Homo sapiens: one gene and its partner. The protein of the gene in region 2 interacts with the protein of the main gene of each other region in a pairwise test. Each region holds a gene or a part of one and is shown on either strand. Other genes may lie near its edges.

Evidence for each region.
Region 1: the proteins of SPTLC1 (region 2) and GTF2IRD1 interact in a two-hybrid assay, tested with the Homo sapiens proteins (one large-scale study listed by BioGRID).

What each region holds. Positions count from the first base shown.
Region 1 is NC_000007.14:74,512,633-74,516,448, reverse strand, and holds part of GTF2IRD1 (general transcription factor II-I repeat domain-containing protein 1), read right to left. Parts: intron 3,620-3,816; coding exon 3,478-3,619; intron 1,105-3,477; coding exon of another isoform or gene 1,009-1,104; coding exon 853-1,008; intron 1-852. UniProt on the Homo sapiens protein: May be a transcription regulator involved in cell-cycle progression and skeletal muscle differentiation. May repress GTF2I transcriptional functions, by preventing its nuclear residency, or by inhibiting its transcriptional activation.
Region 2 is NC_000009.12:92,042,306-92,046,121, forward strand, and holds part of SPTLC1 (serine palmitoyltransferase 1), read right to left. Parts: intron 3,749-3,816; coding exon 3,694-3,748; intron 1-3,693. UniProt on the Homo sapiens protein: Component of the serine palmitoyltransferase multisubunit enzyme (SPT) that catalyzes the initial and rate-limiting step in sphingolipid biosynthesis by condensing L-serine and activated acyl-CoA (most commonly palmitoyl-CoA) to form long-chain bases.

The DNA of each region.
Region 1 (3,816 bases), on a different chromosome or scaffold from region 2:
CCAGGTCTCCTCTTCCTGCAGGAAAGACATGGCTGAGCAATCAGCCTTCACTTAGTCATTCAACAAACATTCTCCAAGCACCTGCTGTTGCTGGGCTCTGAACTGTAGGCTGGAGACAGCTAGAAAGGGCAGACACAGCCCCTGACTCTGGAGAGCTCTTGGGCTGGAGAGGGGACAGGGCACTGTGGGTGCCAAGAGAGGGGCCTAAACCCACTGTGAGGGGGCTTCCAGGAGCAGAGCCTCAGTGCCACGCAGGTGTCTGCCAGACACAGGAGGGGAAAGGCAGTCTCAAAAGATGTAACAGCGCGAAGTCCAGGGCATGTGAAATGCACCAGCGAGTGCTGGAGAACTGGAAGTGGTTCTGTAGAGAGGTCAGTAGGGCCCTGTCACCTAGTGGGAGAAGAAGGTGTGGAGGGGATGAGGATGGGTGTGTGGGCCCCTGTGCCATGCTCAGGGTGATGGGGAGCCCCCGAAGGCTGTGGAGAGAAGAGCTTCATTAATGATCAGACTTGTGCTTTGAGAAGATACCCTTGGTTGCAGGGCAGGTGTAGAGAGCTGGTCTGGAAGCAGGGAGACCGTGGCAAGCCTGGGGCTATTTCTAGGCGAGAGGTGGCAGTGACTTGAGCCAGGGCAGGGACAGTAGGGGTGGAGGTTTGGAAAACGGCTGGAGCAGAACTTCTGTGTCTGGGAATGCAGAGATGAGGAAGGGCTGGGGTAGCCAGTAGCCCCATGCCTTGGGGTCCGGCTTTGCCCAGGGCCCATAGTGGGACAGGAGGGGGCCCCCTCTGCTGGGTGGGGACCGAGGCTCCCACCCTCCCTGGGGCCCCCAAATGGAATGAGGAAGGATCTTACTATAAAGAACATCAAACACCTCCTCTACCATCTTCCGCAGAAGGTACACATCTGAGCCATGTTCCAGGGAGGACCGAGGGAGGCTACGGCCTCCACCCTCGCCCCGCTGCACCTTCTTGGGGTGCTCTGCCTCCGGATCCTTCCACGGGGGCCCTCCTGTGGGACACAGAGCACGCGAGGCCACAGTGAGCACCCGTCTCACCACCCGGCCTTCGAGCTGGGATGTCGCTGCCCTGTGCTGAGCTGCGGAGACTGGCACACAATGTGATACACAAGTGAATGAATGAATGAAGAATTAATGAGTGAGCAAGCCCTATTCCAACCACCCCACTGAGGGCCAGGGCTGGTCATCTCAGAGTTCCCAGGGCTGGGCCTCACCTCTGGTCACCTCTAATTTGCTGTGTGACCTTGGGTTAGTCCCTTCTCTCTCTGAGCCTCAGTCTGTGAATGTTCACGGGAGGCCAGCTATTCCAGCTCAGAACTGAGGTTCGATGAATGTTCCATCTGTGTCTTTCTATTTTTTTTTTTTTTTTTTTTTTTGAGACAGAGTCTCGCTCTGTTGCCCAGGCTGGAGTGCAGTGGCACAAGCTTGGCTCACTACAACCTCCACCTCCAGGGTTCAAGTGATTCTCCTGCCTCAGCCTCCCGAGTAGCTGGGATTATAGGCGCCTGCCACCTTACCCAGCTAATTTTTGTATTTTTAGTAGAGATGGGGTCTCACCATGTTGGCCAGGCTGGTCTCGAACTCCTGACCAAAGTGCTGGGATTACAGGTGTGAGCTACCATGCCCGGCCCCATCCATGCCTTTCTGTGCTCTGACACGAACACTGTCTTGACCAATCTATGCCACCGTTTTCTGCTCTGCCGGAGGGAGAGAAAACCCTCCGGCAGAGGGTTGGGAGGCACCCCCCAACCCCTGCTCCAAGGAGGCCGTGGGTTGCAAACAGCAGGTTCATGCCAGGCTGGGCCAGGGTGGGGACCGGAGAGTGTTGGTGGATCCTTGGGGAATGTTCTAGAAGCTGCATTGGAAAGGAGATGAGAGGAGGGGCCTGCGGCCCCCTCCCAGCTTGGAGCCTATTCTCCTCTGGGATCTGCGGAGCTTGAAATAAACCAGCCGAGTTCCTGGTGCTATAAATAGCGGCTCTGCGTGGCTCTAGAAGGCAGGTGCACCGCCTCAGGCTCTGGGCGGCTGGGGTGCCACACGACCTGCTGCTGTCCATTCTACCCGGCCCAGTCCCCCATCCTGGCCCTGGAGAAGGTCTAGGCTCTGAGGGCTGAGGGGGGTGGGGGGCTGGCTGGGGATGCGGCTGCACCCCAGTAATGCTAGGCCCAGCGCTGGGGGATGCCCTTCCCTGAAACAGCTGATCTTAGGGGTGTGAGGTGAATACTAATAATAGTAACAACAGCTGGTGTCTATTGAGTGTGAACCAAGTGCCAGACACTGCCCTAAGTGCTTGCAAGGTACCAATTCGTTTAACCCTCAGACCCACCCGTCCTCCCCTTTCACAGATGAGTGGGTTGAGGCACAGCAGTTGTGGACCCAGGCGGCCCGTTCTCTTAACCTCATGCTATACCATGGTTCTTTTGAGATGGGGACTCACTGTCACCCAGGCTGGAGTGCAGGGGTGCCATCGTAGCTCACTGTAGTCTTGAACTCCCAGGCTCAAGTGATCCTCCTGCCTCAGCCTCTCAAGCAGCTGGGACTACAGGTGTACACCATCAAGCCTGGTTAATTTTTAAATTTTTTGTAGAGACAGAGGCCTTGCTATGTTGCCCAGCCTGGTCTCCAACTCCTGGGCTCAAGTGATCCTCCCATTTCAGCCTCCCGAAGTGCTAGGACTACAGACATGAGCCACTGCACCTGGCCTAAGATGTTAACCCTGACTATAGCCATGACAGTGCCTGCCCCCTCAGGTTGATGTCAGGGTAGGTGAGTTAGCATCAGAAAAGATGCTATGTACAGCAGGCATTCAATAAATCTTATTGGAACATGGCCAGGCATGGCGGCTCACATCTGTAATCCCAGCACTTTGGGAGGCTGAGGTGGGCGGGTCACCTGAGGTCAGGAGTTCGAGACCAGCCTGGCCAACAAGGTGAAACCCCGTCTCTACTAAAAATACAAAATTAGTTGGGCGTGGTGGTAGGTGCCTGTAATCCCAGCTGCTCGGGAAGCTGAGGCAGGAGAATCACTTGAACCTGGGAGGCAGAGGTTGCAGTGAGCCAAAATTGTGCCACTGCACTCCAGCCTGGGTGACAGGGCAAGACTCTGTCTCATTTAAAGAAAAAAAAAATTGTGTTGGCATAAGTGCATTTGGTCCTTGTGTTCAGGAATACATAGTTAAGAGGAAGAACTGAGCAGCAGCCTTGGCCTTGGTGTCCCCATCTGGAAAAGGCAGATGGAAGTGGCTGGCTCTGGCCTACCCTGGGGTTCACCCAGCCAGTCTCTATCAACTCAGGGGCTGCCTCAATAACACCACATCGGGAATCTCAGACAACCTAGCTTGTTAGGTTCACTCCCCACACACCGCCACCCTGGCTAGACAGGGTTGGGGACCCAGAGATGGGCTAGAGCGCCTGCCCTCGGGAAATGGCGGGCCCGGCCCTCCGGAGCCCTGGGGTACTCACGGCAGAACCTGAGGAAGTCTGACTGTAGCTCCTTCCGGGCATTCAGGAACATTCTCCCCTTCTCTGTGCCCACCACAAAGGCGCTCTCATCGTGCACGGCGACACAGGCCACCTCGGCGTTCAGTTTGGACAGCGCTGAGCACTGTGGGAAGGGCAGGCTGTGTGAGCGGAAGGGCTCCCCATACTCCGAACACCTCTAGTATCCACTTCGGGGGTGGGATGTGAGCTCCCAGCTGCCTGAGACCCCAGCAGCAGCTCCAGGGACAGACGGCCCCTCTACTGTTCTTGGTCTCAGATTCTGTAGTGGGACTGAATGAAATGGCCCTGCAGGCATTGGCG
Region 2 (3,816 bases):
AAGCATTAGGAAGGAAAGAGAGAACACCATTATTGCAGATAACAGGACTTCCATGCACATCATCATAACACAATGAAACAATTACTGGAAATACTAAGAGTTTAGAAAGACTCCTGGATATAAGGTCAGTTTAGAGAAAATAATAATATTCTTATGAATCAGCAATAATCAAGTAGAAAATATAACAGAAAAGACAACCCCATTCATAACAGCAACAAAATCTATAGGATGTCTGAAAATTCCCTTTAAAGGTTCCATAAAGGTACAAGGGCTTTATAGGAATTCCATTAAAGGACACAAAGGGAGATTTAAATAGAGAGCTCATGTTCATGGATGACATTTCCCTCCACATTCATCAGAAAATTTAATGCAGTTCCAATTAAGATTCTAGCAATAATTTTGGAGAAACCCATATTCCAAAACAGTGATAAAAACAGACACTAGTGATAAACCTGTATTCCAAAACAGTGATAAAAACAGACAAAATCAAAAGAGTCTGAGGAATGAGCAAATATACCAATGGAATGGAAGAGACAGTTTAAAAACAGATCTAGGTACAAATGGGAACCTGGTATATGATACAGTACTGTCAACCAGTAGGAGAAAGGATGTTTTATACTTAGCCAGATGTTATTCAGAAATTGATCTCAGTAATCTTAAACTGAAATATTCTTCTCTTGACCAATTTCTTTCTCCAGCCACCATCTTGTTTCTTAGTCCCTCTTCAGAGAAAAACTCCTCAAAACAGTCATCTAGGCCGTGTCCACCTGTCTGGAACCTCCTTCAAGCAGGCATTTTACCCCACACTCCCCTGAAACTACTCACCAAGTCATAATACCTCTACATAACGAAGTCAAAGGATCAGTGTTCTGTTATCTGGTCTGGCCTGTCAGCAGCGGCATGTCACAGGCTGACCTCCTACATAAGCAATTTCTTCCCTGGTTTCCAGGACTCTAGGCTCTTCCAGCCTGCCTCTTCCTCACTGGCCACTCTTTCTCAGACTAGTCTTTGCTAGTTTCTGACCTCTTCACACTGAAATGCTTCATATAATATCCATACCCCAAGACTCAAACATTTATCTCTAGCTCAGTACTCTCCCTCACACTTCAGACTTGTATATCCAGCTGCTGCTCTGCACTCCATGTCTGATGGGCACTTTGGGCTTAACATAACCACTGCTGACCTTCCCCAGAAGGTATTTCTCCACAGTTCTGTCCCTCTCACTCATTAGCAACTCTACCTATTTACTCTGACCAAACCCCCTGAGCTCTACCTGGAGTCTTCTCTTTCTCACTCACCCTGCATATGAACTTCTGCTAGATCCAGTGTGCTCTCCCTTCAGAAGATACCCAGAATCCAGACACTTCGCAGGTCATGGCTCCCAACATGGTCAGAGTCACTATCACCTTTCACCTGCGTCAATCTCCTAACTGGTCTCCCTGCTTCTGTTCTTACTGCTGTTCAATGTATTTTTTCACACCATGCAAAAGTAATTTTGCTAGGGTATCAGATAGGCTGTTTCACTTTTTTGCTCAAAACCATGCCAGGGCTTCCTCTGTGTGCCAATGTCCTCATCACGGCTCACAAGTCCCTGTGTGCGGATGGCCCATGACCCAGCCCTCATCTTCCACCAGATTTCCCACTCCTTTCCTCCTGTCACATTGGCCTCTTTGCTATTTTGTTTACTGTTCTCTGTAACCATCTAGATACCAGCACGGTTTGCCCCTGCGACCCTTATGAATGTGTGTTTACTGTGAGGTGCCATGGAGTCTTCCAACTGTGGATACTGAGTAGGCAACTGGGTGTGAGACCTGCAGCTGCAGTGGTCCAGGGTGGTGATACGAAGCTGGGAGCTGTCTCTATACAGGTGTCATGAAACGATGTGGAGCTCCAGGTGTGGGAGAAGGCAATTCTTCAAGAAGGTAATGAGAAGAAAAGAGAAGCACAGACAAAGCCTTGAAGAGCAAGGTGTTGAAAGAAAGCCTTCAGAGGAGACCGAGATGGAGCCATTCAAAGATGTAAAAGGAAATCCAGGCGTGCAGTGTAGCAGAGTCCAAAGAAGGAAAGAGTGGTCACCTGTGCTGAAAACTATGGGGACATCAAGAAGATGAGCTCTGAAGATGGTCCACTGGATTCAGCAGTCAGTGGAGACCTCCACAAAAACAGTCCAGGCGAAGGGCAGTAGCAGAAGCCAGGTCTCAGAGCTGCCAGTGTAAGTGAAGACGTGGAGATGATAGCTACTGAGAGGAGCAAAGACATGGGGAGTTGCAGAGGGAAACGTCAGGTGACAGGCAAGAGGAATTTAAAGTGGACATGACTGCTAATCAAATAACACAAGAAAGGGGACAGGCTGATGACAAAGTAGCAGGGACAAGCAAAGGCACTCAGTCCTTAAAAAAAGGGCCTGTGGTAGTTGGAGCAACATTTACTGGTCTACAGGAGGGAAGACTGGTTCAGATACCCACAGGTGTGTAGATTTGTCAGGAAATATGACAGAGTCCCAAGTGACAGCATAAGGCCAGGCTGTTAGCTAAAAGTGAGGGGAGTGAAGACAGAGGATTAGGAATTTTGGAAAGAAAAAGTGTGATACAGCTGGGGTAAGTGGAGATTAGACTTAGAAAAAGGCAGGTTAACACCATAGAGTGAAAGGCATGTAAGGCTAGCACTGATGCATTTCCAGTGACTCCAATATGCTAGGCTGTGTTGGCATATTAATATTTCACAAACCAATGGAACTGGAACCAATACAAATATATCTCTCTACCATAAATCATGCAAGAACTGCTGTTACTATCACACAGACACACCCAGAACTTTAATGTCTCTGCCCCTTCTTTATCTGGAACAGCTGTGATGTACTCATTTATCAATTGTCCTTTTCTTTCAGTTAAGTCTCCAGTTTCCATATCCGGAACACAGATAGGACTTTCATGACCAAGAAAGCATGTTTAACCTTAGGAAAGGCAAAAAGAAAGACCTCGGGCAATGTGAAATCACTTTATATAAGACCAGAAATGTGCCTGGAGATATCACCAACCTCCATTTTTTTTTTTTTTTAACTACAGAGGAATCTTAAAGAGTGACTCTTCTAGATGACAAGTTAGTGGGTGCAGCACACCAGCATGGCACATGTATACATATGTAACTAACCTCACAATGTGCATATGTACCCTAAAACTTAAAGTATAATAAAAAAAAAAAAAGTGACTCTTGTGTAGTAAAAAAAAAAAAAAAAAAAAAAAAAAAACACTGATAAAATTTCACTTGTTTCTTTTTCTTGTGTTAAAACTTAGTAATTTATTAAAAAGTAACACAGATGGTATGAACCCAGTCATCTAATTACATAATATATAATGGCATCCCTGTGTGTGCAGACATGGAGAGATGCTTCAGTGTTTACCCTGGTTATTTCTGGTGGTAAGATGTTGGGTTGTTATTTTCATCTTTCTATCTTCTGTACTGCTGTAATATTTTATTAATGAGTTTGTTTCATTTTCAGAAAAACAAAGTCACGATTCTTTAAAACAGATGATCTGGTTTTACACAAATAAACCAATGTGAGTGAACTAAGTTTTTGGTTTCTTAGCTGCAATCTGGTCAAACTGACCCAAGCCTAGAAATTTAAAACTTTCCATTAGTTGTTAAGTGTGGTGCAGATAAACTTTATGTTGGTTGAAAATATATAAAACTCACCCTTGTAAAGCTTTATGAATTTGTCCGCACTTTTCCTTCAACACTGCAAAAATACCTAGATGAAAAAAATACGTTTGAGAGTCTATTTGAAACTTATGATAGTACTAACCTAAAAATATTTTT